Linked DNA regions of Homo sapiens. The protein of the gene in region 5 interacts with the protein of the main gene of each other region in a biochemical or structural test. Each region holds a gene or a part of one and is shown on either strand. Other genes may lie near its edges. The genes, in order: PDZRN3, SYNJ2BP, PALS2, TAMALIN, CAPN6, CARD11 and MPP2.

Region 1 (4,261 bases), on a different chromosome or scaffold from region 5:
CGTTTCTCTATTGTGGTCATCCTTCTTTCCATCTCAACACTACATGATTAATATTTTACATACTGTCCAAAATAGGAATGTGACTTACCAGAAACCGTACTCAACATTTCAAATACAGATCATCCTTTGCCAAGAGAAAATCCTGCCCAGCTGTAGATTTCTCATTTGCAAAACACAAGAGCAATGAAATTCCATTACTTAGAGAAACTGGCTGTTCCACCAAACCCTTGGCAACGGAAGCTGTACTTATCTTTTTGAACAATAGTCTCAGAAAATGTATTCACTCTCAAAAAAGACAGTAAGTAACGCATTTGAGCTCTTAAGAAAGCACTCTTGCCCAAGCAAATTCCTGTTAGGGAAAATCCAGTCTCCTGACCTGGGAAGTACAAAGACTGACTCTAAACCATGCAGCAAAAAAAGCTCCAAGTTTAAGAACCCTTCAAACATTCAAAGGGGATGCAACAATATTAATAATGTCCTTAAAACAAAATCAAGTATCATTTTAGCATGTAAGTTAGCACATCACACTCCCTCCGAGGAGGGAGCCTTACACCCTAACTAGTTCAGTTTGCTTTCCCTGTGAGATTTAACTGTGTATTTTCCTGAGGATTACAAATTATCCTGAAGCATACTGCACGTTGCAGAATGTGTCCAGATGAGACTGGAAATGCAAGACTTTGTTCTCTGTCTTGCTGAGGCTCCTTTCCCCAGGAGAAGCCTGTGGCCACATTCCAGTGAGTGATGTGAACTTCACTTATGGCTTAGCTCGTGGTCCTAGCTCCCACTCAGTCCTAAATTTTGAAATAGGCCATGAAAATACTCAGGAAATACAGACATGATAAAAATGCATGTGGAAAACAAACACCCACTGGTATCGGTGCTGTTTTTCTGGTTTCTTCTATTTGCACTATATTACGGCTGTGGCCCATGGGTGAATTTCTTGTGGGGTCTGGCATATCATCGTGGATTCTCAAATTTACTTTTTGCCTAATAGGAAAGCCAATCAATTTAGCCCATATGTGTATCCATCCAAAGAGCTATGAAAATGGTCAAAACACCAGTAAAAAATTACTCATTTATATCAAACTTTGCAACAAGAGCCCATATGAGAAGGCAACAAATCATTCTCTCCCTTTTAGTGACTCAGAGCATCCTAGAACACTGCAACCCTGTTACAAAGTGTTGTCTGGTGGGGCTGAGAGATCCACTTCCCCTACATGAGTCTACAAACCTGCTGTATAAAAGTTTGAAATGATGAATGACGAACTGAAAATGGAGTAAGTGATGATATGTGAACCCTAATATCAACCTCTGCCTGCAAATCCCTGGGCAATCAGGTTGTACAACTAACAACAGGCAAAGACGACAAACTAACAGAGAGAACAATGCATTTGTAGAAATAAGTGTGTGCTGTGTGAGCTCTGAGGACATTAGAATGACTCCAAAGCTGACACAATTGTACCCTGGTAATCAATATGAACAGGGTGCACAATTTGTACAACAGGGTTCGTTCATCTGGTTCTAACATCCAACTCTTCAACGGTTTTCGCGCGAAACTGTAACTGATGCATACGAAACAGATTGAGGTCCACATGAAAAAAGCCAAATTGTGAACATTCCACTCATAATCTGGCTTTTCTACATTTAACAAAAATTTAACACCAAGGCAATCAACACTCAATCTGGTCCCACACAATGGGAAAAGTGAGACTCCCGCTCAACCATCTACCACTTTAGGCCTCCCTCCCCAGTCAAACATCTTGCTTTGAGCTAGACGAAGATGGGATGGCATTCAGCCTATTCAAAGACACTGGCCAGTATTCACATACCTCAATAATCCTGTCATGAATTTGCAGGCCTCCTTCCTTGGCTGCAGGCCCACTGTCAACTATCTTGGATACAAAGATTCCTTCACTGGATGATCCATCGTGGTTATCCTTTGGGTTAAAAAAAAAAACATGCATGAATGCTAGGCATTAAGTTGAGCATGAAAGTAAAGCTTGCACTCTTAAAACAGTAATTGACTCTTGCTGTGTCAAGAGTGGCAATAGGGTAAAAGGTATTTGTTTCTCCTAATTTCTGTTTTAAACTAAAATACACACACAGTAAAATATTTCAAACCACACCAAAGGACATAAAATGATGCATCCCTGCCATCTCCAACCCATTGTCCTTCTTCCCCCGCCTATGGTAGCTATTTGACTTTATGCATCCTTTTGAAAACATTTTAACACATCATATTCCTAAATATGCATTTGTTCCTTTTTGCATACAAATGTGATTATGCTAGTCTGACTCTTATGTCCTTGCCTCTCTCATTTAACTCTAAAAATCATGAAGATCTTCTGCTACCAATTCGTGTCTGCCTTACTTCTTAAAGTGACTGAACAGTATCCAACATGAGGCTAATAAACACTGTTTTCATTTGCTGTGATTAAACAATGCTGTGATAATACTCTCCTACTTGTATTTTAAATTATCTTTGCTATTATAGTTCTAGGGCAAATCCCTAACAATGGAACTGTTGGGTAAAAGGATATGTACATTTCAAAGATATTGCCAAATGGCTTTTCAGAGAGTTTATACTTATTGTTCATTAGACAGAGTGTTTTCCCACATCCTCATTTGCACAGAATGTTATTAAACTTGTAAATATCTAATAATTTGACTGTGAAAACAGATATTTTGTTTTTGTTCCGATGCACTACCATCACTCTAGTCCTAATAAATTCTGATCTCTGACCTCCTTGAATCTCTTTAGATCTTTGAATTAAATGTCAGAACTAAAACTTTCTGGGAACGAAGACAGCTCACTGTTCAAACTCCTTCCTTTCCTTAAAATCAAAAGGCTCCAACAAGCTCATAAAAAACCCTCACAGCTTGTTCACGAACTTCTTTTCAAACAGCACTGCAATGAATTCTCTCCAAGTGTACGGATTAAATTTCTAGTGATTAACAGATGGATTTATAAATTAAATGGCACAAGCATGTGATATTTCCAAACAAAATCATTTGAAATGTAAGCTCAGAATGTTCCACAAAAACTCCAAAATCTAGTCATGGTAAATTCCTTGCCGTATGTCATTAGAAGATTTATTTCAATAACAATTACTCTGAATACAAATACATAAAAATTCCATTTGTTAAAAATAACTCTTCAAATAAAACATTTTCCACTTTAAACAGCAAAAAACAAAACCAAAAAACAATCCCTATATTCTAAAGGGGGAAGGAAACGACTTCAAGTGTGATTCAGTCTACCCCTTCAAATGCAACAGCAATAACTAAGCTTGGAAAAATGTACATTTCTCAGTCCTTCTCTCCTTCCTTCTTCACACTTCCCCAAACACACACACACACATACACACACACACACACACACACAGAGTAAAATGTTATATGATTCACCAAAAGAAACCAAAATCACAACCTAAAATGAGCATTAAGTGTTTTTCCTGACATTTATCCCCACATGACAAAGATATGTCTCTAACTGGCATCTGGATTCCATCAACGCTCTTCCAAGAGAAGGGTCAGGGAGCCTGTGGGTGCTGTGTAGGATCATCTATCCTCAAAAGGCATCCCTGCCTAGCATCACAGTGCTCTGCACAGACCTCCTGCACACTAACCCTTTACCATCTGAATACCTCTGTGCCTCCTTCCTCTCTCACGGCAGCCTTACTGAGGCACTAGTCTGAACACATCCGTGTAGCTCCCTACATGCACACCTGAAATATATGTATAAAGCTGCAAAGCAGCTTCCTTTACTGAGCACAAACTAGGTACCAGGTACATAGTGAGTGCTCTATGTGCACTGTTTAATCCTCACAATAACCACAAGTGGTAAGTACTATTATTACCCATTCCACAGGTGAAAAACCTGAGACTGAGAGAGGTTCGGAAACTCATCCAAGGTCACACAGCTAAAAAGTGGTATGGCTCAGTTTCAAACTGAGGCGAAGCGGATCCTCTTGCACATTACATGCTCTGTGTGCAATATTGTCTCCCACTGAGAAAACTCAAAACACACAGGAATTCAGAAGTCCAACATTTCAGGCTATGGAATATTCCACTAGATGAACTTGAAGAGTCTCAATGGACCACAAAAGATTTATGAACAAGCTTGAGTTCCCTAAGAGGTGATGTCAATATATCAAATGAAAAGAGATCTGTGTTTACTCTGATTTAACCACTTTGCATTTCTTGGCTGGAGAGAAAGAGGGAGATAGGGGATAGGATTTTGGCTTTCGTTTGTTTTGCA
Region 2 (4,261 bases), on a different chromosome or scaffold from region 5:
CCAGCCTAGATGTAAGTTCTTCTACTCACATTTAGTTTTGATCCTGTTGATGGTATTCAAAGGACCCAATTCCTGACATTCCTGATATTACTACAGCAGGGTTAGCTGTGTTCATCAAAAGAAGCTATGCATTTTTACCAATTATCAAATGAACTGTTCCTAATTTAGTGTGAGAGATTTCTAACCATACCTTCCCTTCCACACTTTCCTTCTCCCAAGCTTCTGGAGAATTTATGTATGATAGTGCTTTAGAAAAATCTCTTGAGAGTTTCTTTTTTTTTTTTTTTTTTTCCATTTTGGTGGTGGAGGCAGTGGTGTAGGTATTGGCAGAGAAACCTCAGAACCAGAAAGGTAACTGCTATTTCATGGTAGGACTAAATCACCAAATTTACTCTCCCTTCCTTCGCTACTTCAAGTACAACCATATATAGGTTGAGTATCCCTTATCCAAAATGCTTAGGACCAAATGTGTTTTGAATTTTGAATTTGGGGGATTTTGGAATATTTGAATTAAACTTACCAGTTGAATATCCCTAATCCAAAAATCTGAAATCTGCAATGCTTCAATGAGCATTTCCTTTGAACGTCATGTTGGCCCTTAAAAAATTTTGGAGTTGGAAGCATTTCAAATTTCAGATTTTTGGATTTGGGCTACTCAATCTATACTTGGGCATAGTAATTGACAACTTTTATTCACTGTAGAAAAAACTGACTACTCGTTGATTAGCAACTCCCCAGTTCCTCTTCCCTAAGTCCTTGGAAACCACCATTCTAATATTTGTTTTTATGAGTTTAACTATTTTAAATGCATATAATTTTAGTTATGCAAGATGAATTAAGTTCTAGAGATCTGCTGTACAACATTGTGCCTACAGATAATACTATATCATACACTGAAAAATCTGTTCGGAGTAGATCTCACGTTAAGTGTTCCTACCACAGTAAAACAAAATATTAAAAGAAAGAAAAAAGAGAAGGAAAGAAAACTGAGTACCAAAGTGCTATTTCTATGGACCAATGACTAAGTGCTGGAAAGGATTTTACTGTACAGAAACCGTTGTTAGGAAAGGATTTTACCTATGCATAAAAAAATAAAAAGGAAAAAGGAACTTCTCTAGGGCTTTCTTAATGTCAGCTACTGGTAGAATTCAGGGGCACAGTGTAAGACAAAGGAGATAGTTTGGAAACAAACCAAAAATCTAGCGGTGCAATTGGAAGGAATAACCATAATCACCAGCCTACACTGTTCTCAATAGAAAAGATACTTAAAGAGACATATGCGGGGGGCCGGGCGCGGTGGCTCACGACTGTAATCCCAGCACTTTGGGAGGCCAAGGCAGGTGGATCACAAGGTCAGGAGATCGAGACCATCTTGGCTAACACAGTGAAACCCTGTCTCTACTAAAAATACAAAAAATCACCTGGGCATGGTGGCAGGCACCTGTAGTCCCAGCTACTCGGGAGGCTGAGGCAGGAGAATGGCGTGAACCCGGGAGGTGGAGTTTGCAGTGAGCTGAGATTGCATCACTGCACTCCAGCCTGGGCGACAGAGCAAGACTCCATCTCAAAAAAAAAAATAAAAAAGAGACATATGCGGGCTTTCTGAAAGTTCTCCCCATTGGTGGGAGAAAAGCTTACACCTGAAGCTCACAGTATTAACATAAGCACTAGCAAATCAATTTGTAATTTAAAGAAAAACATGACCAAACAAAGACACAACAGGAAACATTTAAGTTAAAAAGCATACCTTAGCCAGGCATGGTGGCTCACGCCTATAATCCCAGCACTTTGGGAGGCCAAGGTGGGTGGATCACTTGAGCTCAGGAGTTCGAGACCAGCCTGGGCAACGTGGTGAAACCCCGTCTCTACCAAAAATACAAAAAATTAGACACGCGTGGTGGCACATGACCAACATTGGGAGGCTGAGGTAGGAGGATCATTTGACCCTGGGAGGCAGAGGTTGCAGTGAGCCAAGATTGTGTCACTGCACTCCAGCCAGGGTGACAGAGTGAGACCCCCATCTCAAAAATAAAATAAAATACATAAAAAGCATACCTTGTGCATAAAATCTCTGCAGCTAGATAATAGAAAGAATTTATTCTCTAAAATAATATACATAATAGAAAGTGCTACTTCTGGAGTTTGTGACCTGGCTGGGCAACATAGCAAGACCCTATTCTCTAAAAAAATAAATAAGAAGGTGCTACTTCTGGAAGATGCTATTTTAACTTCCTTGAAGGGCTGGGTATTAAAAATAGTAGCTTAACTTACTAAATGATTTTCTTAGAGCACCCTCAATTTGTATCATAGAAGGTAGGAAGTATTGGAGAAGGTACAGAAATGTAAGATAAGGTGGAAAAGCAGATGGAACAAGATTATCGAAGGTTTTGAAATGACTTCAAAACTGTGACAGCTTTGAACAAGGGGGCCAAGGCCAACCCACCTCTCCCAAGCTGGAACAAACTATGTAGAAAAATCTTTTGATGAAATCCAACACCCTCATCAAATGCTACAGTTGCCTCTGGTGATCTTGGGAACAGGAAGCAAATGTTAAGCAGCTGAATGCAATGTAGTAGTTAGCAACAGAAAGGACTTTGCTACTGGTTATTCAAAGCTAACTGTAGAAAAAAAAGGAAGAGTAGAAGAAATTTTACCGAGATTTACCATAAACAAAAAAGAGCCGTCTACTACACACCCCATCGAAGTCATATTATATAGGTACATTTATAACCCGTTGCTACTTCTGTTGTAAATGAACCAAACTATTTAACATGAGAACTCCTGGACTGACCTGAAGCCCTTTGTTCAGCCAGAATATTTACAGAACTGGGTGTATCTATAAGCCAAAGCATTGCTGCAATAAAAGAGTCACCACAGCATTAAGTAGTGGCATGACCAACTGAACCTGGGCTGTACGGATACCTACATAATCCCCAGTTCACTTGCTCAGTAAAAATTACTGATTGAATCTTATGTGTAAGATGTTGTGTTATCATCTGAGGAAGACATAAAGTTAAACTGCACACTCCCTGCTTTGATCACAAACTGGAGTTTTTCCTTTTTCCTGTCCCTTTAAGATATTGCAGAAGCAAATCAACATTTACTATGTGTTAGGCATTACGTTATGCTCTGAGGAAGATATAAAGCTAACCTGGACAGTTCCTATTTTAACCACAAACCCAAATTTATCCTTTTCCCTGTCCCTTTTAGATATTGTAGAAGCAAATCAAAGTCAGAAGACTTGGTTCTAAGTTTATAACTTACCAGATATGTGGACTGAAGCAAGTCAGTTTACCTCTGATCCTCAGCTTCCTTTTCTACAAAAATAAGAATTATAAATTCTGCCCTGTCTACATCAATGGGTAAGTGTTAGGGGCCAATAACATAAAATACGAAAAAAAATCTTCATAAACTACATAGTAGTTGCTCTATTGGGATAAGGCGCTAGGAGTAGTTGTCAATAAACTAATGGCTGCTAAAGCTCCAAACTAGATAGTTTGACAGAGAAAGAATGAATAAATATACAGTAGAAATGCAAAATCTCCTAAAAAATGGGAAGACAGATTTTAAAATTCCACCCATCTATAAACAGGAACTCAAACTTATTAAGTACGTCTATGGCATGTGACCTAGAAATCCCCCTTAAGAGTAGTTTCTAGCAAGTGTGATATCTAAACTCTGCGGCAATCATCCAGCATATGGACCAACCAATTGAAACAGATGTCAGTTGGAAACCACCAGAAAGGGAAAGGCTATTCAATACGTATCTTGCTAATCATTGGCTATGGCCCAGAAAAATCTTGCATAAGTAGGGTGACCACATATCCCAAAAGCAATTGCCACAAAAGCCAAAATTGACAAATGGGATCAATTAAAGAGCTTTTGCTCAGCAAAAGAAACTATCATCAGAGTGGACAGGTAACCTACAAAATGGGAGAAAATTTTTGCAATCTATCCATCTGACAAAGGGCTAATATCCAGAATCTACAAGGAACTTAAACAAATTTACAAGGAAAAAACAAACAACCCCATCAAAAAGTGGGCAAAGGATATGAACAGACACTTCTCAAAAGAAGACATTTATACGGCCAACAACATATAAAGAAAAGCTCATCATCACTGCTCATTAGAGAAATGCAAATCAAAAGAGATGCCATCTCATGCCAATTGGAATGGCGATCATTAAAAAGTCTGGAAACAACAGATGCTGGCGAGGATGTGGAGAAATGGGGATGCTTTTACACTGTTGGTGGGAGTGTAA
Region 3 (4,261 bases), on a different chromosome or scaffold from region 5:
TGGGGTCGGGGGAGAGGGGAGGGATAGCATTGGGAGATATACCTAATGCTAGATGACAAGTTAGTGGGTGCAGCACACCAGCATGGCACATGTATACATATGTAACTAACCTGCACAATGTGCACATGTACCCTAAAACTTAAAGTATAATAAAAAAAAAAATTAAATAAATATTTAGCATGGGAAAAAAAAAAAAAGAAAGGATCTGAATAAGATATCCTCAAAAATGCCTCCTAGGATTTATAACCACTTTATTTGGGGGCAGGGGACCTTATTGAAAGTCGTGAAAAGTTTCTTTCAAGAAAGTAATGGTGAATGGAAACTAATTGTATAGTATCTGGTATTTCCAAATTGAATAGCATAAAATGATAATCTAACATTTTAATTGGGTGAATAGTAAAACTTTATAAAGATCATTAAATTCCTTCACGGAAAATTTCTCTACCTAGTTGTTTTCAAGAGCTTAATGCTAAGGATTGGTTGGTGATGGCAAACTGAGACTACTTTGTCTCACAAGATAGTCCAACCTTTTAAAAATAGGGCTTACATTTTTTTTTACTGACCTCCATTCCAAAAGATTACTAGCTAAAAAATAAAAAACATTTAAATTGATTTGTATAAAAATATGAATGATTTCCAGGCACGGTGGCTCACGCTTGTAATCCCAGCACTTTGGGAGGCCAAGGCAGGCAGATCACGAGGTCAGGAGTTCAGGACCATCCTGGCCAACATGGTGAAACCCTCTCTACTAAAAATACAAAAATTAGCTGGGCGTGGTGGCACACATCTGTAATCCCAGCCACTCAGGAAGCTGAGGCAGGAGAATCACTTGAATCCGGGAGGCAGAGGTTGCAGTGAGCCGAGATCACGCCACTGCACTCTAGCAGCCTGGGTGACAGAGCAAGACTCTGTCTCAAAAAAAAAAAAAAAAAAAAAAAAAAGCATGACTATCATTTCAAAAATAAGCAACTTTAATAAATTAAACTTCTTTACTCAATTATCTGAGTTTCTTATATCAAAGCTCTTTATAAGAAACCCAATTATTGGAGTTTCTTATACCTTCTAGCTCCTTATACAAGGATAGAAGATAGAAGGATATTAAAAGAGGAATAAAAAAAGCAAATAATTTTTTATTTATGTAACTAAAGTTAGGTTTTCCATATAACATTTTATTATGTGCATATAGACATACATATTCTAGTAAATAAAAAGAAGACAAATCCACTCAAAGATAGCCACATTCAAACTTCAAATAATATTTATTACAGTTAATGAAAAAAAAATCAATGTTTCTTTTAGAAAAGTAACGCAAGCACTAAGCTGGTAATACCAATAAAGTATTTATAGTAATATTCTATAGATTATTTATAAACTCTGCCATTACAGAACTAAAACAAAATGTTCTGAAACATTCAAGAATTTGTAAACAACTGACATTAGCCCTCACCATATCACCAGATTGGATGCTGTTCAAATGAGCTGCGACTAGAATTAGTATTCCCAATTCCTTAGCAAGCCATTATTACAAAATAGGATTTCATTTTCTTTATATGCATCATATGCTGTATTTGATACAAGATGATGGGAGTTATATTCTTTATATGAAAATCAGTTGATGCTTTGGGAAGACCCCAAAAAAGCAAGTGACAAAACAACAAAACAAAATGATAAACTGCTGTAAAATTAAGGGTAAAACAAGTATAAACAATTGAGGAGTCATAAAACATTAGAAATCTAGATCTTATATGCAGACTGCTTCACAAACTTTTAAGTTCTCACTCCAAAGCTGGTAATCAGTGATAATGCATTGGCTTATATAAGAATGATGACCCAGAGTTCCTGGCAAAAGACACATACTTAAAGAAAAGACTGACACATGAATGTAGATTTTTAAGTAATATATTATTTAAGATATGTGTCAATCGTTTATGACTCTTCACTTAAATCACTTTCAGTCAGCCAAAACTACCACCCGTTCTGATCAAATCAGATTAAAGGCTTTTACTCGTAATAGAGGCATCAAAATTTTTTCTGGATACCCCAAAAAAGCTATTGGCAATAGTTGCCTTTAGAATAACGTTTCTCGGCTTCATCACTACTGACATTTTGGGCTGGATGACTCCTTGTTGAGGGGGGCTGCCCTGTGCACTGTTTGCAGCATCCCTGACCTATACCTTATACATAGTAGTAGCAACACCTTCCCAGTTGTGACAGCCAAATATTCCTGGAGATTGTTCAGCAAAATCATCCCTGATTGAGAAATACTGACTTAGAAAGTGATGAAGATGGGACAAAAAGACTTATCAACTCCTCCTCCCTTTTCTGAACTATTTAAATTACCATTATGGTAGGCTGAATAATAGTCTCCCCCTCCACAAGATATCTATGTCTTAATTCCTGACACCTATGAATGTCACCGCATTTGGAAAGTTTCACAGGTGTGATTAAAGATCTTGTGATGGGGAGGTTATTCCAGAGAGCACTAAATGCCTTCACAAGTGTCCTTCACAGAGGGAGATTTCCCTTTCTCTCTGACACACACACACACACACACACACACACACACACACACACACACACGTGGGGAAATGAAAGACACAGAGCTGAAAGATTTCAAATGCCAGCCTTGAAGACTGCAGTGTGTAGCCGCAAGCCAAGGAATGCCAGAAGCCACCAGAAACTGGAAAAGGCAACAAGTAAGTTCTCCCTTAGATTCTTTGGAGGAAAAATGTCCCTGTTGACACCTTGATTTTGGCCCAATTATACTGATTTCAAATGTCTGGCCTTCAGAATCGTAAGAGAATACATTTATTTATAAGCCACTAAGTCTGTGGCAATTTGTCACAGCAGTCACAGAAAACTAATACAATCATAAAAAGATTTTAGTGACTTAAAAAACATAATTTTAAAATCTGCAACAAGCAGATGAGATAATGTGTGGAGAGCATTTAACATAGACCTTGAAACATGGTGGTATCTATAATATTATCAAATGTTTACATCAGCATTAACTATGACTAAACGCCAACCTCTTGATAGCAAGAAGAAAAAACAAGGAAGCTCAACTAGTAAAACTGGGTATATTTGTTCAAGGCTCATGTGAACGAAAACACATAAATCATCTACTCATGTGATGAGTGTACTTGCCAGTTGTATAAGCACTGTGTTATAATTTGTTCTGTACTGAAAAGATAAATTATGGATGAGGCCACCTAATGATGGCTTCCTTGGAGAACCATGCCTGAATATTCATTAGTAGAAAAGAAACAAGAAGGCAGAGGAGGGAAGAGTATGCAAGAGAGTAAAGCAATGGGGATCAATGAGGTATGTGCAGAAGTATTGACCTGGTGAGAGACCAAGTTCCAGCATTAGAGTTACCTAAATTATATACAACCTCAAAAGCTTTGTTGAATGATTTCATTATTAAAATGGAATATTCCACAGGATGTATTATTTTACACTCAAATGGTGGCTCCTGGGGATTTTAACAATATAAACATGCTCCTGCCCCATACCAGACCTACTAAATTAGAATCCTTTAGCGTAGGATAGCTCCAAAGGATTCTGATGCCCACTTAGGTAAAGAATCCCTGCCAGAGTCACTTCATGGTAAAAATGACCTACAGAACAAAATATAAAGTATTTATCCTTGAAATATGCATTTAAGTAAATCAGCTTAGTATTTTCCTAAGTTAAAACTTCTCCCAACATGTACCCCTCTGAGTTCCACCACAGAATTTCTCTAAACGAATCCCTCACCTTTCACTTTTCCTTTCCTAAGCATATGGCCCCCAGTCTGCTCAGAGAATCATTTTCCCCACACTTTCTCATACATTTTTCTTTAAAAGTCCCACATATCTCCAGCTGCCCTATTCTATCTTTTAAAAATATTAATCCTACCCAACTAATATCTAATAATATCCTACAGAACAAAGCAACTATGAAAAAGTTCCATTAATATGCTATACAATAAACCAAGATTTATAAAAAATTGCTCTATTGCCTATTCTAATAAATATTCTAAGTAGATTTATCAAATGAAATTGAAAATCACTTTTTATAAAAGATTTCTTCCAAAAACATAAGAATTATGAACTGGGTCTATAAAAAGGTGATAAGCTAAGCTCCTTCAATTAAATCTTTACTTAGTGCTACTAAGTAGGTAACAAAGTGCTGGGCTGTGTGAAGGATACAAAGTATCGGAAAATCTCGGTGATTTATAAACAACTTTACCAGTACTGGGGTAGAAGAAAGGGGAATG
Region 4 (3,983 bases), on a different chromosome or scaffold from region 5:
AGGCGGAGCTTGCAGTGAGCCGAGATCGCGCCACTGCACTCCAGCCTGGGCGACAGAGCGAGACTCCGTCTCAAAAAAAAAAAAAAAAAAAAGAAGTTCTGTCCCAAAGCTAAGCCCACCCAGGACCCTGGGCTACCCTCAGATTTGGTTATTTCTGTCCAGTCCACGCTGGCCATAAGACCCAGTCAATTCAGGGAAGAGCAGGTGAGCAGCACCCAGCTGGGAACCGACCCTGGCCCCAGGCATGGCATGGCCTCATGGATCCACAGATAATCAGTCCAGCCTCTGGTGGTGGGAGAGAAGCACAGGGAATGACTGGCCCCCAGAGGGATAGTTCTGCTACCCTGCACCACTGGAGAGCTTCCTGACCTCAAGCACAGTGTGCCCCATGTCAGGGCCCCATTCCTATCTGTAAAAAGGGGTATGGATCCCTGCTGTGGATGCTTCAGGGATGATGGGGAGGGAGAGTGGATTTGAAACTACTTTGAGAAGTTGTAGTATACCACTTGGCTACTGCTACCATTTAAATATTGTTTGTCCCCAAAACTCATGTTGAGGCTTCATCCCCAACGTAACAGTGCTGAGAGATGGTAGGACCTTTAAGAGGCATTTGGGGCCGAGCGCCGTGGCTCACACCTGTAATCCCAGCACTTTGGGAGGCCGAGGCGGGTGGATCACCTGAGGTCAGGAGTTCGAGACCAGCCTGGCCAACAAGGCAAAACCCCATCTCTACTAAAAATACAAAAATGAGCTGGGCTTGGTGGCCAGTGCCTGTAATCCCAGCTACTCGGGAGGCTGAGGCAGGAGAATTGCTTGAATCTGGGAGGCAGAGGCTGCAGTGAGCTGAGATCATGCCATTGCACTCCAGCCTGGGCAACAAGAGCGAAACTCCATCTCAAAAAAAGTGGCATTTGGGCCATGAAGGATCTGCCCAGTGAAGGGATCCATGCTGTTTTTGGGGAGTGAGTTCTTGCTCTGGTAGGACTGGTTTAGTTACCTGGCGAGTGGGTTGCTATAAAGCAAGATCACCCATGTTTTGTCTCTTTTGCGTGTGCCTACTCACCACTCTTGCAGGCGTTCCTGCCATGAGATGCCATCCATCATGTCAGAACGCAGCATGAGGCCCTCACCTGATGCGGCCACCCAGTCTTGAACTTCCCAGCCTCCAGAACCATGAGCTAAATAAACCTCTTTTCTTTATAATTACCCAGTATCAGGTATTCTGTTATGGTAACAGAAAATGGACTAAGATAGCTAGCACGGGCTGCTGGTAAGTGGGAAGGAGGTAGGGGCTTAGGGGCAAAGATGGTGGAGGGGGGATTGATTCATACAGTTTCAGGCTGCCCTTCCTGGAACCTGGGGACTCTAGATCTGCTCAATCCAGGGATCTCCTGCTGAAGCATAATTTCCTTGTTAGAGGAAGTAACATATTGCTTTGGGAGGCAGAGGCAAGAGGAGGATCGCTTGAGCCCAGGAGTTCAAGGTTATAGTGAGTTATGATTACGCCACTGCACTCTAGCCTGGGTGACAGACTGAGGCCCTGTCTCTTAAAAAAAAAAAAAGTTTCTAATTTTTTAAAAGGGAGTAACATCGGTTCCTCAGCACTGGGCCCATTTTGGGGCAGGATTGGCCTGATCCCCAATATCAAACAGACTTAATGGAATGTTGCTTCTTCCCTGGCTCCTGCCCATGCTGACTGCCAGGGTTGCTGGGAGGAATCAGAGCAGCAGCAGCATCATCCACCATTAATTAGGCCCTGGCAGTGTGCCCAGGGAATCCCCTTGCCGCACTGTGATGTTTGGATGCATTATTACCCTCATTTTGTAGATGGGGCTGTGCAAGATCACACAGTACATGGCAAATTTGCCTAGATCCAAAGCCCAGATTCTATCCATTCTTCTTTCTGGCCTTCTCAAAGAAGGAAAAGGAAGAGGAATTGATTTCAGGAGAGATTGCTCACCCCCTTTGCTTGGGAGTAAGGTCATATCCCCTTCCCAGACCTGGGTGTCCTGGGCTCAGGCCCCACCTGGTGTGAGCCCAGCCAGCTGGGCAGGGCTAGACTCATGAACTCGGCAGACAAAGGTCACCATTTCCACACGCTGCTCCTCCCGGTGGTGAAGGCCATAAGTCTGTAATGGACAAGGGGACCCTCAGCCCAGGGTTGGGACAAGTCCGTTCATCCCTCAGGCTGGTCATCCAACCCCCCTGACCCCTGTGTGCAGCTTCTCCCACCTGGATCTCAAAGCCGAAGGTCTGGTTATCCTCCTTCTCCAACGTCAGCACTTTCCTGCAAGAGACACAGGGGTCAAGACAATTAGGATTAAAAGGTGTAGAAGTCCCATAGCTTGGGCCTCCCTGGATATTGGCAACTGGTCTAGAACATTCCAGCAGGACTCTGTCTCCAGTGACAGCTCAGTCTCATCACAGATTATTGGAATGTCTTTCCCATACCCAATTGAAATCAGCCTCATGGAGCCACAGAGAACCAATCCAGCCTCTAGTGGTGGGAGGGAAGCACAGAGAAGGGCCGGTCCCCTGAAGGATGAGCCGGCTGAGTTTTTTAGCCCCATCCCAGCTTTCCAGTGAGCCCTACAGTACCACTTACTGACTAGCTAAGGCCCGAAATTCAGCCACAGCCTGGAGCCTCCTCTGTTCCACAGCTTTGGAGAGAGGACTGGCCCCACCCCCAGAGGCCAGTCACGAGGCTCAGCAAGACCACAGCTGCTCCTCCCAGCTATGCTGGGGCCAGCCCACCAGATGTGGGGGCTGGGGGAGGGGAGCCTCGAGGCCGCCCCTTCCCGCACTGAAGGCCTGCCCGCTGGACACAATGGTCTGGAGCTGCTCCAGATCCTCGCCTGCTGGGGGAGCCCAGAGTTTCCTCTGCCCACTCCCACCCCCTTCCTTCCCGCCCAGCCAGAGGCACAGTTAAAGCAGCCTCCAAAGGCCCCTTCAAGTAGCTCAGCCTCGGAAAGGCCCTGGAGACCAGGCTTCTCCGCTTCCAGCCTGACCCAGAGATTCCCCCAAATGCTGAGCAGCACCTCCCCACTCCAGCTCGAGCCCCTCTCACTCTGAACAGCAGGCCTTTCCCCTCTCTGTACTATTGGGGCAGGGAGCAGGGTGGCTGGGAGTTCCGCGTCTACCCCAATGTTCTAGGGTTTTTTGGAAGGGTCAGCAAACTTTTTCTGCAAAGGGCCAAATGGTAAATACTTTAGGCTTTCTTTGCAGGCCCCTTATGATCTCTGTCATATATTGTTATTTGTTTTTATTTTTACAACTCTTTAAAAATTATTAGCTCAAGGGCCAAACAGGCCAATCTGGCTAGCAGGTCAGTTTGCTGATCCATTTTAGAGAAAGTCAAGCCCAAATCAGGGATGGGACATGAGTAGAGAAGGGAAACTGTGGGGTCCCAGGGCCTGGAGTCAGCACCTACTTCTGCCCACGCTCAGATCCCTCCTAAGAGGGCTGCCACAGGCTGGGACCAGAAGAGGACTGACATTCTGGAGGCAGGGGCAGCCAGCCCCAAGCAGCTGGACACAGCCTGGCTAAGGTCTGGGCCCGTGGGGTTTGCCAAGGCTAGGAGGGCTCAGGGGAGCCCAGGAGGCCTGGGTTAGGACGTTCCCCATAGACTTTGCCTACACCCCCTCCCAACTCCCACATCCGTTCATCCAGATCTCCCCAGGGAGGGGTAACTGGCAGGGACTGGGGGTGTGTTGAAGAGCACCTAATGACTCAAAAGTCCCTACCTCCTTTCTCTGCCACCCCCTTCACACAGCCCTCACCCCCACCTGCCCTCACTCCCAGCGGGGGAGCCATGTTTAAAGGCTAGGAGAATGACTACCCTCGCTAGGCTGAGATGCTGTCCTGGCACCCCCCAACCCAGCACCTCACCCCTTTGGACCATGGCAGGGGCTGGGTGTTGGTGACTCACCGCTGCTGTTCAGGACTCTGGCTGAGATTCTTCCAGCGGAATCCTGAGCCCTGGG
Region 5 (4,261 bases):
TGTAAATTTGGGACCCCCCCCCCCACAACATTCCATTTCCTCTTATAAACTGGCCCATTCTCCAGTTATACTTTACCCCTTTTCATACGTGATGGCTATTTAACAATAGATTTAAAACATGACAAGTTAACAGTCATAGAATGTCAAAACTGGAATGAATTTTGGAGACTATCTAGTAAAGCCTATTTTTCACATGAGGAAGCAAGCTCAGAGAGGGGCAATAACTTGCTACTCTGATCATCTAGCTAGTCAGCAGGAGACCTAGGCCTAAAGTTTTTTATTTTTCAGAACCACATATGGCTAGAGAAAGAAGCTGAAGACCTCAGTCATCCATCCCTGTGCCTTTAGGCTCAACAATGGCCACCACATAAAGGATGATATTGTGCAACTCCTCAGGGACAGAGATGCTACTACCTCTTTCAGTCATTCATCCCAGTGTTTTATGCCTCTGCTTAAAACCTACCTAAACACTCTTCACTCTTTTGGGAAATTTACTTACCTCTTAGCTTTTGGTTCCAGGATGAATATCACTAATAGGCGTTAGTCTGCTCAATTAAATTCAATAAATATGAATCAATCTCTTACTATATGTAAGCATCGTGATATGAAATACGGGAAATAAATCCTTTATTAAGCCCTATCTTCTGCCTCTTTAAGGAAGTGAGGCATTAAAAGACTAGAAAGTAGCCAAGGATTTAGAAAGGGTAAAGGGTAATAAGCCAATGCAAACCTAGCAGCCAAACAGACTATTTGGTGACAAATTTGAAAACAACAAAATGACTGTTTGTTGACTTCTCCCCTAATTTTGGACACACTGGATATCTTCCTGTTGGGGTTAAGGATGTAAGACGAGAAATTTTTCTGTAACTCAAAGCTGAGATGCAGAGTGCAGATGGGACATTTCAGCTTGAGCTGTGCTGGAGTGGTAGGAATGGGGTTGGAGGAGAGGTCACAGCACACATATTCACAACATTTGGGTGGCTTAGGAGCAAGGAGGGATGCTGAGCCCCTAATGGCTCCCAGCTGTGCTGGCACAGTTGAAGTGATCATTTTGTCACGGCAAAATGATTTCTTAGGAAGAAACACACAACTAGGAAGTTGAGTACCAAGAGTAAAGCTGAAATGGTCCCCGCATGACCCCACTTCTGAGCCAAAACCTTCCATTAAGCAAAGCAGCTTCTCTAGGAAGTGTGTTCTCTTAGCTTAGTCTTAAGGGACTTCTCATTGTCCTTACTTCATCCTCCTTCCCAGAGACCTCTGAGCGGGAGGGGGCATACAGTTACAAGTCCTGTAGCCCTGCACAAGGCACTCTATGTGACTCCCTTTGCACCTACCACATCCAAATTCAGCATTTTTTTTACACAGGTGAAATTTACTGACAATAAACATGGAGGTCCAGGGTAAACCGCAGGAACCTCAGTAAAATGAAAAGCTGCCCAGAAAACCAGCAGCCAGAATAGTGGAAACACTTTCAAAAGTGCTACGTGCAATCTAGCAGTAGTGAGGGGGTAGGGGTGTGGACACCTACAAGTGAGGTCAGGCCTGCAGTAGGTATATTATGAATAAGTCCAGGGTCTAAATAGTCCCAGAAAGCTCAGGGGCTAATTTGCACAGAACTGCTATTCAGGAACTGAGGGTTTTGTGAGCTAGTCCAAGTAGTCGTTATCTTACTTAGAAAATTGAACCATCCCCCAGATGGAGCATTTATAGGTGGACTTAGGCTCAGGGACTAATGTTGCACCAGCCTCTCAAGAAGTCCACTTTTCCTACTGGGGAGTTTCAATTCTGCATGAAGATTTTATTATCAATAAAATAGTCTCTTCCTTCCTAACCCATCCAAGGAAAGCTCAATATGGAGAATAGAATAGGATCTTAGGCCCAACCTCCACTTCCAAACTGGGCCACCAAATCACTGTGTAATCATTTTCTCACTTTAACCTTCAGGATTCTGCTAGGAGACTCAAGGCACAGATCCCGAACTGCTTTTTTGGGAAGAATTTATATATCTATGCAACGGAATACTGTTCAGCAATAAGATGGAATAAATTGATACATGCTACAACATGGATGACTCTTGAGAACATTATGCTAAGAAAAAGAAGCCAGTTACTTTTATGATTCCATTTTAAGTGAAATGTACAGAATAGGCAGTTCTGGATAGAAACCAAAAGTACATTAGTGGTTGGCTGCAGCAGGGGTGGGGGTAGGGTGGAGGGATTACTCCCTTCAAATGTGCACAAGGGATCTTATTGAAGTGATGCAGCTCTTCTACAACTGGGTTGTGGTAATGTTTGCACAACTTTAAATTTACTAAAAATCATTGCTTTGTATACTTAAAACAGGTGAGTTTCACAATATATAAATTGCACTTCGATAAAGCTGTTAAAGTTTGTTAATGCATAATTTAAAATAAATAGGACAGTTGGAGAAAAGACTATGGGCCTATTCAACTCTCTTCAATTGTGTAAACAGTGGAAAACACTTAGGACTACTCACATGGGGTGATATAGTCTCTGGGAAGAAAAGGAAATTCTTGAGCAGACTAGGCCAAAACTACTATACCTAGGTGTTGCATTCAGCTGGTGGTTGGAAATTTCTATTAGCACAGAGAGAAAAGTGTTTCTTTCCTTACGGTTCCCTCATATGCTGTCACCCAAGCCTGTATATTCTGCTTCTAATGTCTTCCCTTATCTGCCTTTCCCTTCCATTCCTACTACCATAATTTTAATCCAGAGCCTCATCACCCTCCCACTCTCAACCAGACAATGTAGTAAAATGGCCCCAGGGGAATGTATTCTAGAGGGGAAGACTAGGCAATGGCAATGGTAGCGAAGGCTGAACTTAAAACTTGACAGGAGAGCTGACAGATCTTGTGCAGGTGCCCTTTTTTCCTCACAGCTGACAGTGCAAATTCCCATGAGGCTTTACTCCTTTTTAGTCAGGGATTAGATGTGTCTGATTTTAAGACACTATTGTAGGTAGATATGAGTCAGTAAGGAAAAACGCCAGAGGTGGGTAGGAGGGGAGAGTGGCTGGAGGGAGCTGGAGAAGAGATTTTCTGTGGGAATTTGGCAGGCAGATTTCAGCCTAAAAATCCTACCGGCAGTCTTATGATCACACTGTAACTCAGTATAAGTTAGACCTTATAATTTATGAAGACTATATATGTTGAGCTCCAGGAGAATAGAAAAGTCCAGGAGCACATGGTCTCAGGTAATATACCTGTGTATTCAGAAAGCTAGGACAACAGCTGAGGCCAATAGACGGCTGGAGAAATTAAGAAGAACTTTCCTCTGGAGGGTATGGGCAGATGATCTGGCATTGAACAATTGCAAGACATTCATAATTCCTGTCATCTGAAGAGGCTCCTTAAAACACAGCAAAGAAGTGGCAAGTGGGAGGAGGGGAACTCAATCCTGCCCAAGAATGGGGCGGCGGGGGGCCGGGGGGGCGCCAAGGCGGCGAGGGGCGGAGCTTGACTGGAGTCAGTTTGTTAAACTATCAGTGGTGTTTGCAGGCATGGAGGCTTACGAAGGCAAAAGCCTTCAACACGAGAAAGGAAAAAGACAGAAAATATCAGGTTAATCGTGTTGCTTCCATTTTGGAGACTTCAGAAAATAGCCCCAGTTAAGTGTGCAGCTACATGGCATGCCAAGGGACAAGATGTCTGTAAGTTTCGCTGCAAACCAGGATCTCAACCTTGCCAATGAGGTGGGGGAGGCCAACGGCTCATCTGGCCTTCCTGAGCCAATTCAGAGAGGCCCAGCTCTGTCTCTCAGCTTTCCTGATGGGAGGCCAGAGAACTTTGACGTGGTTCTTGACCACAGGCTTGGCCTCCACTCTGGCTGGGAAGGAATCCACAGCTTTTGGAGGAGGCTCAGATGGTGGTCCAGAACCTTGTTTTTTTCTCCTGCTCCCCACAAGAGGCCCCTTCTCCAACCATTCCAATCTATGGTAACCTCCCCTTCTTCAAAAATTCTACATGATTTACTGTCCATATGACTGAAAATAGCATTTCATACATCCAACATTCATTTCTTTTTTAACTATTTGATAGCTCAATATCCATCTCCCCAACTAGAATGGGAGTGCCTCACCACAGGCCATGTCTGTGTCTTGCACCAAGGCTGGCATAGAGTAAGTGTTCAGTAAATATTTCTCTAGTGACCCTCCCTTTGGGCTTAATAAGATTAAGCAAACACCATGCTCTCAAACGGGAGAGTGTGGAACAATTAATGGAAGTGTGGCATCAACACAGTGA
Region 6 (4,261 bases), on a different chromosome or scaffold from region 5:
AAAACGGGGCATCACAAGGGTTATTGGCAACGATGCAAAAAGGTTGTCTGTGTGCAATGTGGAGTCTTTGGAGCCAGACAATGTGACCTAAGCGTTGAGCTCTTCCTCGTCCCAGCACTGGATGAAGAAAAGGCTCTCTGTCCGCGTCACTGGAGGGCTCCCCCAGCTGCCGGGGGCTGGCTCCGTGGTGGACGCTGACCTTGGGGATGGCAAGAGCAGATGGTGGTGTTTTTGTTTTTTTTAAGTCTGGGCCACAGCAGTTTAGGAAATTCTGATAGCTGGCGTGGATAGAAAGTGAGCAGACAGGGTTGGAGCTGAGATTGTTTTTAGCTGAAAAGAAGAAGCCTTCCAGCAGATCTGTGCTGTAGAAATGTGGGCCATGGTCCTATTGGTGGGGAATGGGGAGCAGTGGCCCCGCAGGAGGCCCAAGGAGACCCTGGGCGAGGGGGGTCATTCCCACCTCCAGACACGAGTGCTAGACTGCGTTCAGTTTGTGAAATTCACTGAGCTGCATGCTTAGAATGCTGTGTTTATGTTCTATTCCAATGCAAAGTTTGATGTTTTATTTATTTAGAGACTGGGGCTCGCTCTGTTGCCCAGCCTGGAGTGCAGGGCATGATCCCGGCTTACTGCAGCCGCGACTTCTAGGCTGAAGCAACTCTCCCGCCTCTGCCTCCCGAGTAGCTGGGACTACAGTTACTCACCACCATGCCCAGCTAATGATTTTCTAATTTTTTTAGAGATAGGGTCTTGTTATATTGCCCAGGCTGGTCTCGAACTCCTAGCGTCAAGCAATCCTCCCACCTCCCAAAGTGCTGGGATTGCTGGCATGAGCCACCATGCCAACATTTGGTGGAATTTTTTTTTAAGTGATGCCTTCAGCAAAGCAGAAATTGCCCTTTCTCAAAATGATGAGCTCATGGTTGAGAACCTTGCAGATACTCCTGGGACCTGCCAGCCTCGCCGCCTCACCCTTCATGTGTTCCCTACCCTCTTACTTGAAGGCTGGCTAGGGTAGCAGGTGTTTTGGGGTGTGTGTGTGTGTGCGTGTGTGTGTATGTGTGTGTGTGTGTGTTTGAGACAGTGTCTCACTCTGTCACCCAGGCTGGAATGCAGTGGCACCATCTCGGCTCACCGCAACCTCCACCTCCCGGGTTCAAGTGATTCTCCTGCCTCAGCCTCCCGAGTAGCTGGGATTACAGGCGTGGGCCACCGCACCCAGCTAATTTTTATACTTTTAGTAGAGACAGGGTTTTGCCGTGTTGGCCAGGCTGGTCTCGAACTCCTGACCCCAAGTGATCGGCCCGCCTGGGCCTCCCAAAGTGCTGGGATTACAGGCGTGAGCCACCACGCCCGGCTGGTAGCAGGTGTTTCATTCAAACTCATTCACGCCACCTGGTTCACCCCGTCCGGGGCCTCATCTCTGCCCATGAACATCACTGTGGTCAGCAGAGTCCTGGAGTGTCCAGACTCATGTGGGGGTCTCATCTCCTGGATCAGCGGCAGGTGGCTTTCAGGGCTCCCGCCCCGCTATAGACCCCAACCCTGCATCCAGGCCCCGCTGCAGGCACCTTCACAGGAGCGGGAGGTGGGTGGGCTGCTGCTGACCAAAGCCGCTGTGCCCGCAGAACAAGCACTGCCTGCTGGAGGCTGGGATCGGCTGCACAAGAGACTTGATCAAGTCCAACATCTACCCCATCGTGCTCTTCATCCGGGTGTGTGAGAAGAACATCAAGAGGTTCAGGTAGGGCTCCCAGACCCCTAAGGGCTGTCCCCTCCTGTCCCTAGCACCCCACCAAGCCTCCATGGATCGCAGGAGGCCTGTGTGCCCCCACCTCATGCACCCCTTTTGTAAACCCTCACCAAGTACGGGACTGACCTTGCAGAGCTGATGCCAAGGACAGCGGCCGAGATGGTGACTCACATATGGGGCGCATCCCAGGGGACAAGAGCTGGGAGGGACGGGGCGGAGTGCCCATCACCCAGGGTGGTCCGGGAAGGCCTGGGGTATCCATCAGCGAGACCCATGGCAGTGAGGGGGGCCTAGGAGATGAGAAAGAAGACGCAATCTGGGCAGCAGGGGAACAGCTGGTGCTCAGACCCTGAGACAGATGTTTGGGCGGAATGGTGAGGGACGGAGGGGTGAGGGGCGGAGTGGTGAGGGACAGAGGGGTGAGAGGCTGAGGAGTGAGGGGCGGAGGGTGAGGGACGGAGAGTGAGAGGCTGAGGGGTGAGGGGCGCAGGGGTGAGAGGCAGAGGGTGAGGGGTGGAGGGGTGAGGGGCGCAGGGGTGAGGGGCGGAGGGGTGAGAGGCTGGGGAGTGAGGGGCAGAGGGTGAGGGACAGAGGGGTGAGAGGCTGAGGAGTGAGGGGCGGAGGGTGAGGGACGGAGAGTGAGAGGCTGAGGGGTGAGGGGCAGCGGGTCCAGGCCATGCAGGGCCACGGGAGGCTGCGACATCTTGTTCTGGGTGCATCTGGAGGCCACTGAAGGTGGCATGGTCCACTTTAGGGTATAAACGCACCTCTCACCTCTGGACACGGGCAGGGTGGCGGTGTGGGCCGGGCTTCTGTCTGAGAGGCGATGAGAGGCAGTCTGACTCCGAATCCGTGTTCAGGGTCGAGCCTGCAGGATTCGGGAAAGGGTTCACTCTGGGGTTCCAGAGAACCAGAGGCTGGGCGCGGTGGCTCACGCCTATAATCCCCACACTTTGGGAGGCCAAGGTGGGCACATCAGCTGAAGTTGGTAGTTTGAGACCAGCTTGGCCAACATGGTGAAACCCCATCTCTACTAAAAATACAAAAAAAATTAGCTGGGCGTGGTGGCGGGCACCTGTAGTCCCAGCTACTCAGGAGGCAGAAGCAGGAGAATCGCTTGAACGTGGGAGGGGCAGGTTGCAGTGAGCTGAGATCGAGCCACTGCACTCCAGCCTGGGCGACAGAGTGAGACTCCATCTCAGAAAAAAAAAAACAAAAAAAAAAAAACGAAAGGACGGCGCTGAGGTTTGGGGCCTGGGTGATGAGGACAGACTGGCCCTTAAGTGGCTTCATCTCGGATCCCCGCCCCTCCTCGCACGCACCTGCAAAATAAATGTCCTGCCACCATTTTGCAGAGGGAATCACAGACTGAGAGTTTAGGCCCATTCATTCCTTTTCACCAGATACTCACTGAGCCATTGTGAAGGGTTAGGCTCTGGGGAACGCAGCAGTGAGCAAAAGAGACGGGCATCCCCCTCGATACCTCACACCCGTTAGGCTGGCCAGGACCAAAAGGACAGAAACTGACAAGTGTTGACGAGGAGGGTAGACGTCGGAACCCGGTGCACAGCTGCTGGAAATGCAAAAGAGAGCGGCCACTGTGGAGGACAGCATGGCGATGCCCCCAAAAATTAAAAATAGAATACTATATAATCCAGCAACCCCACCTGCGGGCATATCCCCAAGAGAATTGAGAGCAGGGTCTGTAAGAGACATATACACGCCCGTGTTCACAGCAGCGTTACTCCCAATAGCCAAAACGTAGACGTCACCTAAGGGTCGGTCTGTGGGGAGTGAATACACACAATAGGGCCCATCCATACAGGCTAGGAAGGTGGCAAGAGCTGAAAACCTTGCAAACTGTTAACAAAAAAAGAGTTGAAACAAAGAAACAATAATACATTTAATGCATGAGAAATACTAGCATGGTACATACCCCCTTCCCTGATCTGTCCTGCCTGGGAATGTGTTTATGGTGCAGTGTGTATCACAACAAAAATACTGTATGGAGTATTTTTTTTTTTTTGAGACGGAGTCTCACTCTGTCACCCAGGCTGAAGTGCAGTGGCACGATCTCGGCTCACTGCAGCCTCCACCTCCCAGGTTCAAGAGATTCTCCTACCTCAGCCTCCCGAGTAGCTGGGATTACAGGTGCCCACCACCATGCCTGGCTAATTTGTGTATTTTTACTAGAGATTGGGTTTCACCATGTTGGCCAGCTGGTCTCGAACTCCTGACTTCAAGTGATCCTCCTGCCTCGGCCTCCCAGAGTGCTGGGATTACAGGCCTGAGCCACCGCACCCGGCCCATAGAGTGGAGTATTATTCAGCCTTGAAAAGGAAGGAGATTCTCACACCCACTCCAACATGGATGAACCTTGAGGGTGTCATTCTCAGTTAAATAAGCCAGTTACAAAAACACACATGCTGTATGTGATTCCGCTTCTGTGAGGTCTCTAGAGCAGTCAGATTCCTAGAGACAGCAAGTAGAAGGGTGGTTCTCAGGGGC
Region 7 (4,261 bases), on a different chromosome or scaffold from region 5:
TGGCTTGTGTTGTCTGCAATGATCTTTCAAAGATTCAGAGGGGAAAAATGGTCTTCATATATATTATTGAAATGGAATTCTTTTCTTCCTGACCCATCTAACCTAACACTCCCCACTGGGCTGGTCACTGGCGAAGGATTCCTTTTCTGTTTTCAGCGCTCCTTGGTATGGAGCCCGGAGCCAGCAGAGCAACAAATAGGTGCAGGGCCTGCTCCTGGCACCGTGTTCTGATTTCCTGTCCCCTCATTCGCTGGGAACACTGAGTTGAGGGCCTGGAGACGCAAGTTCAAGTCCCATTGACCCTGGGAAAGTTATTCTACCTCCCTAATTTCCTCATCCTGGGCTTCAGGGTCTTCAAGGCCCCACCCAACCATGATGTCTGGTGGAAGAAGCCATCTTTGAACGCCAATGCATATAGGGTCCTGGGAGCTGGGGACAATTTGGTAACTTCTAATGACCCTCTGTGGCAAGGGGATGGAAAGGAAGGTTTGTCCTTTGGTTTCTTCCTTCCCTAAACTAGGTCCTAGTAATTTTGGGGAAGAAAGGAGACAGCAAGGAATGCATGTGCACGTGTGGGTATGATTGTCAGTGAGTGAGGAGCTGAAGCTGGGGGCTGGGGGGTGGGATGGGGAAAATGCCTGGGGGCTGAGGGAGGACCCTGCTTGGTGTCCCAGGGCTCCTGGGGAAGCTCCTAGCCCCACCTGTTCTGCTTCCACCCCCAGGCCCATGAGAGGCTGGAGGAGACGAAGCTGGAGGCCGTGAGAGACAACAACCTGGAGCTGGTGCAGGAGATCCTGCGGGACCTGGCGCAGCTGGCTGAGCAGAGCAGCACAGCCGCCGAGCTGGCCCACATCCTCCAGGAGCCCCACTTCCAGGTTCCTGGCTGCTAGGGCTGGGGTGAGGGAGCAGGAGGTGGGTGGACTGGGGCATGCTGCTGTTGGATGGGCCAGCAGGAAGTTGGATCTGGGATGGGAAGAGACCCGGGACACTGCCCCATTGTCCCTTCTCTTCCCACCACCCCCCAGTCCCTCCTGGAGACGCACGACTCTGTGGCCTCAAAGACCTATGAGACACCACCCCCCAGCCCTGGCCTGGACCCTACATTCAGCAACCAGCCTGTACCTCCCGATGCTGTGCGCATGGTGGGCATCCGCAAGACAGCCGGAGAACATCTGGTGAGGACTGGGCAGGGCCAGAGGTGGTGCTGGTGAGGGTGGGGGGATTGAGAATAACCAATGAACGGACAAAAAAGGCCAAGTGTGGTCTGAAGATGAAGATGGGGCCAGCTTTGTGCAGGGAAGGATTGATGCAGCAAAGGGTCGGGGGAAGACCCAGGAGACCATAGACACTGCACACACACCTGTGTCCGCACCTCTCCAGTCTGCCCACCTCTCCCCTCATTAGTACCTGCTGTAAGTGAAGAATTTAGGCAGAAGGATGGAGGAGGACTTTGTGAGGGTGGGGGTGGGTGGGTAGGGACAGGAATGGAGGAGCTATTAGGAGACTATTTGAAGATTCTGACTTGGAGCAATTGGGGCCTCATCTTACACTCCCTCTGACCTCCAGGGTGTAACGTTCCGCGTGGAGGGCGGCGAGCTGGTGATCGCGCGCATTCTGCATGGGGGCATGGTGGCTCAACAAGGCCTGCTGCATGTGGGTGACATCATCAAGGAGGTGAACGGGCAGCCAGTGGGCAGTGACCCCCGCGCACTGCAGGAGCTCCTGCGCAATGCCAGTGGCAGTGTCATCCTCAAGATCCTGCCCAGCTACCAGGAGCCCCATCTGCCCCGCCAGGTGGGCCCCTCACCCAGCACAAGGCCCAAGGGATGGCTGAGCCTCCTGGCTGTCAAGGTTGCAGGTCTCACGGAGGCCCTCCTCTCCTACTGGTTTCCTCCAGGGAAGATGGGGGTGGGACCTGCAGCCCAGGGGCAGCTGACCGCAGCCGCCGACAGGCCTCTGCCGCTGCTGCACCTGCACATGCTCCCACATTGGCTGGTATTATGCACGCAGCCACAGCCTGGGGTACAAGTGTATGAGAGAGCGCCTGCATTATGGTCAGCGTTCTTCACGTTTGTGCGCGTGCGCAGGGTGGGGTTGTCATATGTCCTGGATAGCTGTCTCCTGGTTGGTCAATTCTGGGGGTGTGGCTGCTCTGTCTCCCTATCCTATTGGGTCTCTCGCCCTCCACCAGAGCCCTTCTCCAAGGGGAGAGGGTGAGTGGAGGGAGGGATCCAGGATTAGGTGCCAGGGTCCTGTGCCCTACTTGGTGGTCCCGCATCCTTGGTCCTGAGATCTGAATCCTGTAGTACTAGATGCAAAGGGAGGTTGGCACCAGGGAGGAGCATGGGCAGGCCTGGAGGCATCACTCCTGCAGGGGGACAGTTCCATTGCCCCTTAGTCTCTGTGAAAAGAGGGGGCATGGGGTAGACCTCCACCTGCAGCCTTCTGCTGACCCTTCCCCCGACCCTTTGCTGATTCCTGGGCCCAGGTATTTGTGAAATGTCACTTTGACTATGACCCGGCCCGAGACAGCCTCATCCCCTGCAAGGAAGCAGGCCTGCGCTTCAACGCCGGGGACTTGCTCCAGATCGTAAACCAGGATGATGCCAACTGGTGGCAGGTGAGCTGCGGGCACCCCCGCATCTCTCCAGGTATGGTGCATGGGAGGGCGAGGGCACAGGGAGGGGTCCTCTTGCTCAGGCAGATCTTGGTCTCATGTCCGTTTTAGGCATGCCATGTCGAAGGGGGCAGTGCTGGGCTCATTCCCAGCCAGCTGCTGGAGGAGAAGCGGAAAGCATTTGTCAAGAGGGACCTGGAGCTGACACCAAACTCAGGTAGGAGGTCCCCCCTACCCCACACCTCCAATCTGGGATCCAACAGGGCCCTGTCTGCCTCACTCACCCATCTCCCTATGGCCAGGGACCCTATGCGGCAGCCTTTCAGGAAAGAAAAAGAAGCGAATGATGTATTTGACCACCAAGAATGCAGGTGGGTATCAGAGCGCCCCCTCCCTTACCCTCCTCTAACATGGCATGCCTTTCCCTGTCCCCACCCATCACCTGTGACGACGTGTGCCTGGCTCAGATGCTGCCAGCCGTGTCCCTAGGCCCTGCCCGACTCCCCCCTGCTCCCCTGTTCCAAGCCCTCTTGCCCTCAGCCTCCCTGAGAGCTCCGCCCCTCCCTCACCGTGCAGCCTGGTGAGCAGCGCCATCTCCCTGTGTCCAGAGTTTGACCGTCATGAGCTGCTCATTTATGAGGAGGTGGCCCGCATGCCCCCGTTCCGCCGGAAAACCCTGGTACTGATTGGGGCTCAGGGCGTGGGACGGCGCAGCCTGAAGAACAAGCTCATCATGTGGGATCCAGATCGCTATGGCACCACGGTGCCCTGTGAGTGGGAGCTGGGCCCTGCTGAGTTGGGGACAAGGAGCAGGGCTCCCCTGGGGCCAGGGCTGGGCCCACCGAATGGGCATCTTCATGGGCACCAGGCCAGGTGGTACCTTTGGGTACACGGGTTGGGGTGCACGCCCTCTGTGGGTGGTTAGGGGAACTTCAGGCTCAGGAAGGGTGAGGGAGGTGTCCAGCCAACAGGTGGCCTAGCGGGCTGGGCTGGCGTCCACTTTCCTTCTCTTGTTTCACTTGCTAAAAGCCATGAAGAAAGTGAGTGCCCAGCTGTGCACCCGGGTGAAACAGGCTACGAGCTGCATGTGTGTAGCCTTGTGGAAGACAGGGCTTCTTAGTGGCAGAAACAGCGGGGGTGGTGGAAGCTCCTGGCTGCCAGAGGCAGGACTAAGAGCACTGCCCTGGTCTGCTTGGCTCTTGCTGTGTGGCTTTGGGCTGTACATTGCCCTTTCTGGACCTCAGCCTCTCTTCTGTGGGCTCTGGGCTGGACCATGATTACCAGCTCATGTCTCTGTGTGTGCCAATGGGGAGAGTGGGGGGCAGGTGTGTGCAAAGGCAGCAGTGCTGGCAAGATGGGGAGCAGACTGCACCTCCAAGGCTGGGAAACGGGGGCCTGGGTAGGGGTGCATATATGTGTCTGAGGCACTGTAACCTGCCCCTGCCCATTTGGTCCAACCTACCCCCATCCCCCTAGACACCTCCCGGCGGCCGAAAGACTCAGAGCGGGAAGGTCAGGGTTACAGCTTTGTGTCCCGTGGGGAGATGGAGGCTGACGTCCGTGCTGGGCGCTACCTGGAGCATGGCGAATACGAGGGCAACCTGTATGGCACACGTATTGACTCCATCCGGGGCGTGGTCGCTG

The links.
Region 1: the proteins of CAPN6 (region 5) and PDZRN3 interact in a test that uses a peptide from one of them, tested with the Homo sapiens proteins (one large-scale study listed by IntAct).
Region 2: the proteins of CAPN6 (region 5) and SYNJ2BP interact in a test that uses a peptide from one of them, tested with the Homo sapiens proteins (one large-scale study listed by IntAct).
Region 3: the proteins of CAPN6 (region 5) and PALS2 interact in a test that uses a peptide from one of them, tested with the Homo sapiens proteins (one large-scale study listed by IntAct).
Region 4: the proteins of CAPN6 (region 5) and TAMALIN interact in a test that uses a peptide from one of them, tested with the Homo sapiens proteins (one large-scale study listed by IntAct).
Region 6: the proteins of CAPN6 (region 5) and CARD11 interact in a test that uses a peptide from one of them, tested with the Homo sapiens proteins (one large-scale study listed by IntAct).
Region 7: the proteins of CAPN6 (region 5) and MPP2 interact in a test that uses a peptide from one of them, tested with the Homo sapiens proteins (one large-scale study listed by IntAct).

Annotation. Positions count from the first base shown.
Region 1 is NC_000003.12:73,600,525-73,604,785, forward strand, and holds part of PDZRN3 (E3 ubiquitin-protein ligase PDZRN3), read right to left. Parts: intron 1,938-4,261; coding exon 1,830-1,937; intron 1-1,829. UniProt on the Homo sapiens protein: E3 ubiquitin-protein ligase. Plays an important role in regulating the surface level of MUSK on myotubes. Mediates the ubiquitination of MUSK, promoting its endocytosis and lysosomal degradation. Might contribute to terminal myogenic differentiation.
Region 2 is NC_000014.9:70,389,102-70,393,362, forward strand, and holds part of SYNJ2BP (synaptojanin-2-binding protein), read right to left. Parts: intron 1-4,261. UniProt on the Homo sapiens protein: Regulates endocytosis of activin type 2 receptor kinases through the Ral/RALBP1-dependent pathway and may be involved in suppression of activin-induced signal transduction.
Region 3 is NC_000007.14:24,579,564-24,583,824, reverse strand, and holds part of PALS2 (protein PALS2), read right to left. Parts: intron 1-4,261.
Region 4 is NC_000012.12:52,009,185-52,013,167, reverse strand, and holds part of TAMALIN (protein TAMALIN), read right to left. Parts: intron 3,979-3,983; coding exon 3,929-3,978; intron 2,677-3,928; exon of another isoform or gene 2,606-2,676; intron 2,288-2,605; coding exon 2,233-2,287; intron 2,130-2,232; coding exon 2,027-2,129; exon of another isoform or gene 1,986-2,026; coding exon of another isoform or gene 1,961-1,985; intron 1-1,960. UniProt on the Homo sapiens protein: Plays a role in intracellular trafficking and contributes to the macromolecular organization of group 1 metabotropic glutamate receptors (mGluRs) at synapses.
Region 5 is NC_000023.11:111,256,833-111,261,093, forward strand, and holds part of CAPN6 (calpain-6), read right to left. Parts: intron 1-4,261. UniProt on the Homo sapiens protein: Microtubule-stabilizing protein that may be involved in the regulation of microtubule dynamics and cytoskeletal organization. May act as a regulator of RAC1 activity through interaction with ARHGEF2 to control lamellipodial formation and cell mobility.
Region 6 is NC_000007.14:2,907,533-2,911,793, reverse strand, and holds part of CARD11 (caspase recruitment domain-containing protein 11), read left to right. Parts: intron 1-1,628; coding exon 1,629-1,744; intron 1,745-4,261. UniProt on the Homo sapiens protein: Adapter protein that plays a key role in adaptive immune response by transducing the activation of NF-kappa-B downstream of T-cell receptor (TCR) and B-cell receptor (BCR) engagement.
Region 7 is NC_000017.11:43,879,817-43,884,077, reverse strand, and holds part of MPP2 (MAGUK p55 subfamily member 2), read left to right. Parts: intron 1-722; coding exon 723-875; intron 876-1,025; coding exon 1,026-1,175; intron 1,176-1,566; coding exon 1,567-1,794; intron 1,795-2,488; coding exon 2,489-2,620; intron 2,621-2,728; coding exon 2,729-2,834; intron 2,835-2,919; coding exon 2,920-2,988; intron 2,989-3,193; coding exon of another isoform or gene 3,194-3,225; coding exon 3,226-3,387; intron 3,388-4,093; coding exon 4,094-4,261. UniProt on the Homo sapiens protein: Postsynaptic MAGUK scaffold protein that links CADM1 cell adhesion molecules to core components of the postsynaptic density. In CA1 pyramidal neurons, required for synaptic KCNN2-containing channel function and long-term potentiation expression.